Linked DNA regions of Homo sapiens: region 1 is linked to region 2. The links come from fine-mapping of genetic effects on gene expression. A gene starts in region 2. The other region holds a variant in brackets. All regions are shown on one strand. Distances are from middle to middle.

The links. PIP is the estimated chance that this variant, and not a neighbour inherited with it, causes the effect.
Region 1: its variant is fine-mapped to the expression of PDCD6 in whole blood (TOPMed, PIP above 0.99).

The regions. Positions count from the first base shown.
Region 1 is chr5:310,259-313,274 of GRCh38, reverse strand. PDCD6 (programmed cell death 6) reads right to left here. Exons shown (of 6, transcript NM_013232.4): 5 at 1,873-1,982. The region is part of intron 3 of PDCD6-AHRR (PDCD6-AHRR readthrough (NMD candidate)); the gene reads right to left. Among named protein-coding and RNA genes, the nearest start is that of AHRR, 9.9 kb to the left of the region's middle. The variant G/A (reference allele first, on the strand shown) is at 1,510.
Region 2 is chr5:270,471-273,184 of GRCh38, reverse strand. PDCD6 (programmed cell death 6) reads right to left here and starts at 1,539. Exons shown (of 6, transcript NM_013232.4): 1 at 1,364-1,539; 2 at 413-474. The coding sequence starts at 1,464. It overlaps PDCD6-DT (PDCD6 divergent transcript), which reads left to right and starts at 1,661. Exons shown (of 2, transcript NR_104613.1): 1 at 1,661-1,840. PDCD6-AHRR (PDCD6-AHRR readthrough (NMD candidate)) reads right to left here and starts at 1,539. Exons shown (of 13, transcript NR_165163.2): 1 at 1,364-1,539; 2 at 413-474. RefSeq lists a silencer at 1,247-1,456 and enhancers at 1,747-1,836, 2,498-2,714.

The sequences.
Region 1 (3,016 bases), 40 kb before region 2:
TTTCAAAAAGCCTTTATCCTTTCAGAAAAAGCAGATAAATAAAAACGTTTTTGAGGGAATTTTAACTTGAGGTCTGCAGCTTTCTTTTCTTTCCCATTCCCCATCTGTCTAGCGTTTAGGGTCACTCTCCAAGGGTGGGGACAGCCTGGGAATTGGCTGTCAGGCCCTCCCCACGTGGTCTGGAGCAGGGCCTTGAGGAGGCATCTCCCAGGAGGAGCTACGCTGGCTGCAGATGTGCCTTGGAAGGCGCTGGAGAGGTCGCTGTGAGGCCGCCTGTGTTACTCCAGCTACCGAAAGCTCACACAAGATCAACGTTAACTTATAGAACATAACCTCAAATGAAGATCTGAGCCCTACGGCAATTCAGACACAGAACCTCAAATGAAGATCTGAGCCCTACGGCAATTCAGACACAGAACGAGATTTTACACGGCATCTTTTCCCTTTTTCTTTTCTTTCTTTTTTAAGACAGGGTCTGGCTCTGTCACCCAGGCTGGAGTGCAGTGGTGTGATCTCGGCTCACTGAAACCTCCACCTCCCGGGTTCAAGTGATTCTCCTGCCTCAGCCTCCTGAGTAGCTGGGACTACAGGCATGCGACACCAGGCCCAGCCTACACTTTTTTGAAAGTGTTCAGAGAACATTGTAAAAATGTCATCCAACCTGGCAGGAACCCCGAGAGGCAGGGGCAGGAAAGGGTCCCCAACCGTAGAGTTTTGAAGCTTCCATGTTCACAGACCTGGTTCTCCAACAAATCCCTGAAGAACAGGGACTGATGCATCCATGCCAAATCAGAGGAAACTCACTTTTACAGATCTAGCATCTTAATTATTATACAGAATAAACAATTTGGGAACGTTTTCCAAATTTCCACATTATTTCTAAAAACCCCATGCTGTTCCTATCTCTCACTGAATTCCAAGGCCAACAAGACAGGACCTTGAGGAACCTGGGTAGAGACCTGGATCACCACCTGCAAACAGCAGCAGAGGTCTGTGTGGAGCTCCCAGGCGGGTCCCCTGAGCCCTGCTCTCCATCTCCCGTGGGTCTCAAAGAGAGCCCAGCAGGAGAGACACCACCAAGGAGCTTGCCTTGCAGGTCAGGGTGCATTACCAGCTCCTGCAGACACTGGAGTGCACGGGAAGAGCTCGGAGACCCCACTGAGGGCGGCCTGAGCGACCACAGGCTCCACAGCTGACCTCACACACAGACGGCAGGACACAGTGATGACCACAACAGAAAACGTGCCCATTTTCTCAGAATAAAAGTTTTTGTAAAAATACACCATAGTTGGCCAGGCATGGTGGCTCATGTCTGTAATCCTAGCACTTTGGGAGGCTAAGGTGGGCGGATTACTTGAGGTCAGGAGTTTGAGATCAGCCTGGCCAACATGGCAAAATCCCGTCTCTACTAAAAATACAAAAATTAGCTGGGTGTCACCTGTAATCCCAGCTACTGGGGAGGCTGAGGCAGGAGAATTGCTTAAACCCGGGACGCAGAGGTGGGAGTGA[G/A]CCGGGATCGTGCCACTGCACTCCCGTCTGGGTGACAGAGCGAGACTCGGTCTCAAAACAAAACAAAACAAAACAAAAAACAAAAAAAACCACAACACCAGAACATACATGTAAATAACCCACCGGATACTGAAAAACCACGTCTTGCAGATGGGCTGCTCTGTGCCATTTCCAAGGGGAGGAAAACATGTTTGTCCACACTTCACTAACCGGCTACTTCTCCAAAGATGAGACTCACTTTTATAAGCTCCAAAAACTAATTCTACACATGCCCAGCTCCTTAGATTGAAGGTCAGGTGCATCACGCTGGCAAGCAAGCCCCTCCCACCACCACCACAAACCCACGTGAAGCCATTCCGTCACCTGCAGGACGATGCAGCCCTGGATGAAGTCGTCGAAGGCAATCTGCCCCCGTCCCTGCCTGTCAAACTTTCGAATGAGGATGTCGTGGAACTGGTCAGAGAGCCGGTAGCCTTCAAGAGGGAAAGTCAGAGTCAGAGAAGGCTGGGAGAGACGGGAGGTATGTGCCAACACTCACCCCTCCTGCCCAAGGCCCACAGCCTCTAACACACACAATGCAAGGCTGTGTGGGAACGGAAGTGCAAATTCCCTCAAAGGCACTCAGAACTGAGACACTTCCCGAATATATCATTCTGTAATGAGCTGACATCCCCAGTGCATGGAGTGACCCCTTGAGACCATGACCCCGGAAGGAGGAGTGAGTGGGACGCTGCCATTAGTCACTCCTGTGAATTAACTACTCACCTCCGGGAAGCACTCACCAAACACCACCCCACAGGGCGGCCACACTCAGTTTCCTGAACCCAGTGGAGTTACTTTCAAAGTCCTTATTGATTTTATTATGTTTATTAGCCTAGATAAGAAAATTCTGAATGATTCGCTGCCCTGGGTTGCCCATCACCAGATAATGCTTTGAAAACTAAAATTTCACAGAAGGCTTCCAGTTATACAAAGTGACAATGTCAGGAAATGGGAGTGGCTGGGGGATGTGCCCCCACCTGCCAGGAGGGACTGAAGGGCACGCAGTGGCAGGGTGACCTCGGAAAGGTCCAAGTCACTGCAGGGCCACCAAGGGCTGGGATTCCGTTTCCAGTTCACCAAGGCTGTCCTGAAAAAGGCCTCCCACAGGGAGAGGGCTCTGAAGACATGTGGATGCAGCAGGTGTGTTCGGGCACCCCGGAGGGCATGCCCCGCCTGCCGCCTTCCCTTCCCTCCCTCGAAATCCCACTGCCTTCGTGACTGTGGCATATCCTTACTGACTCAGGAGGCAAGATCCAGGTGCTGATATATTTCTACTGGTTTTCAGTCCTGCTGGAATCTCTGCAGGGACGTGTGCACCTACTCTCTGAATCTCACAGTTAATGACCTGCACAAACAGCCATTTTACGGATCAAGAGTCAAGCACACAAACATGAACACAGTGCCTTCCAGAGTGGTCAGGGCATTCTGTCATTTAAGTTCAGGGGTCCCTAAATGTGCAACAGCG
Region 2 (2,714 bases):
CCCAAGCCCTCCAACAATCACCCCCCAGTGCCCTCGAAGGTCTATTCAGAGAAGTCACCAAGATGCAGTCACCCAGGAAATTCAAGGACCTCCAACTTACCAAAAGGCTTTCGGCTGTACAGAGCTAAGCTTCCTATTCCCCTCCTAAACCTACAATCTAGTTTTCATTTCTCAAGAAGCCTTTCCCTGTGCTCACGCACGCAGTTGTTAGCTGGCTCGGTGAGGCACTCCAAGCAGTAACAGCGGTAGCCACAAAATAAACCAGAAGCATCTCCACTACGAAGCAGTAATAACAATTTGTCCTAATGATTCCTTTGTCCTTGGAAAAACAACTTCAGAAAGTTATCCACTGTGAACAGGGCAGGCTCGCGGCTTCTTGGTCCGGAGACCCAGTTCCCACTGGCCCACTCACCGTTGGAGAGAGCTTGCTGAAGCTCGGTGTCTGATATCACTCCACTCCTGTCTTTATCGACCCTATAACATCAAGAAGACCAAATAAGCTGGCGATCGAAAGTTCAGGAAAAGCAAAACAAACGTCTTCTGTCAACCCTGCACCGACTCTGGAAGGCTCCCTCCTGGAACCTCCGCCTCTCCCGTCCCGCTGAGGAGTACAGCGGAATCAAGGAAGTGCCCCAGGAGCCGACGTCCAGTGTGGTCTTCCCCTAAGAGGACAATCATCTTCACCTCAATCCTTCCCTTCCTTCCTCTCCTGGCCTGTCTGAATTCCCATTTGCACCCGTTTCCCTTTTTCACAGACAAGACAAGATTCCCTCAGATAACTAAGCCATTCCCTGGCCATCAGTCACTACAGTTTCGGACATTCGGTGGAAAAGCGACCAGGGACAGAAGGCGCCGCCATAAAGGTCACCTGGCCCGAGCAGACGCCAGGTCGCTGCTTCTTCCTTGGCTGCTGACATTTTAACAGCGCCCAGGCAGTCTGTTTCCGCTTTCCCCAAACAAGCACCCTGGAGACCCTCCACCTGGCGGCTCTTGAGGCGAGAAAAAGGGCCTAGCCCAGGAGCCGGTGGCCGCGACCTCGGGTCTGCAGTGGCGCACTCTGCATCTTGGGAAGGGCCCGACGCACAGGACAGGGACCGGGCAGGAGGCAGGGGCGGCCCCAGGAGACCGGGCAGCGGACGGGGGAGACCGCGGGGGACCCGCCAGGGGACGGGGGCGGCCGCGTCGGCTGGGGCAGGGGTCGGGGGCGGCGGCAGGGGACGGGAGGGGGCCGCGGGGGACCCGACAGGGGACGGAGGAGGCCGCAGTAGAACCGGCAGGGAACGGGGTTGGTCGGGGGAGTCGGGACAGGGGTCGGGGCCGCCGCGGCGGAGGCGGGAGGTGCCCGGGCGGTGCCAGGCCGCACCTCTGGAAAACGTTCCACAGGAAGCTCTGGTCCGGCAGCGCCGCGCCTGCAGCAGGCCCAGGGCCGGCCCCAGGGCCGGGGCGGTAAGAGTAGGCGGCCATGGGCCAAGGCACGCGGCTGGGCTGAGGCGCCTGCAGCGACGAGAGACCTCTCAGGCCGACTCCGCTTCCGCCTCTGCCGGGGGCAGGGCCTGGCATTATCACCACTTCCGGGGGCGCAGGAAATGCGTGGTCTCCGGGATGGTCACGGGGTCCCGCGCAGCCAATCCCCTCGCAGCTAAGTTGCCAGGCAACGCCCTGGCGCCTGCGGGGAGGGCGGGGTCTGGGCGCCTGGAGGAAGCCAGAGCTTTGGCGCAGGCCGCCTGCGCGCTGTGCCAGGAAAGCGCTTGGAGAAAATGTCCGGCCCCGCGACCTGGGACAGGAAGTGATGGAGCACGGACTTAGTTTGCCTTTCAGTTCTTGTATAAATAGTTTTGAGGTGAATGTGATTTGCTAACAGTCGGAAACTCTGGGCGGGGCGCGGTAGCTCACACCTGTGATCCCTGCCCTTTGGGAGGCGGAGGCGGGCGGAGCTCTTGAGCCCAGCAGTTCGGACCAGCCTGGGCAGCATGGATAGACCCCATCCCTACAAAAATTACAAAAAGTAGTCGGGCGTGGTGGGCTCCTGTGGTCCCATCTACTCCGTGGGCTGAGGCGGGAGGATTGCCTGAGCCCGGGAGGTCAAGGCCGCAGGGAGCCGAGCTCACTGCACTACAGGGGTGGACAGCGAGACTCTGCCAAAAAAAAAAAAAAAAAAAAGAAAGCAAAAGCAGGCCGGGCGCGGTGGCTCACGCCTGTAATCCCAGCACTTTGGGAGGCCAAGGCCAGTGGATTACCTGAAGTCGGGAGTTCGAGACCAGCCTTGGCCAATTGGGAGACACCCCGTATCTACTAAAAATACAAAACTAACCGGGCGTGATGGTGCACACCTGTAATCCCAGCTACTCGGGAGGCTGAGGCAGGAGAATTGCTTGAAACCGGGAGGAGGAGGTTGCAGTGATCCGAGATCGGGCCATTGCACTCCAGGCCTGGGCAACAAGTGCAAAACTCTGTCTCAAAAAAAAAAAAAAAAAAAAGTCAAAACACAATTCGGGTGGGAAAGGCAGTGTGCAGCATTCTCGGTTGTCTGTTCCGCCCCCAAAAGCTTCCCTCCTTTAGGTTTAACCTGCGCCCCCGTGCTCTGCATCAGCGCGGCCCCTGACCCCGTGCAGCTGGAAACACTGCTGGGCCCCTTCACACCCCTGCCTGCTGGGCCCCTTCACACCCCGGTGGTGGTGCAGCCCTGCCTCCCGCAAGACAGCACTGCCTTCGTG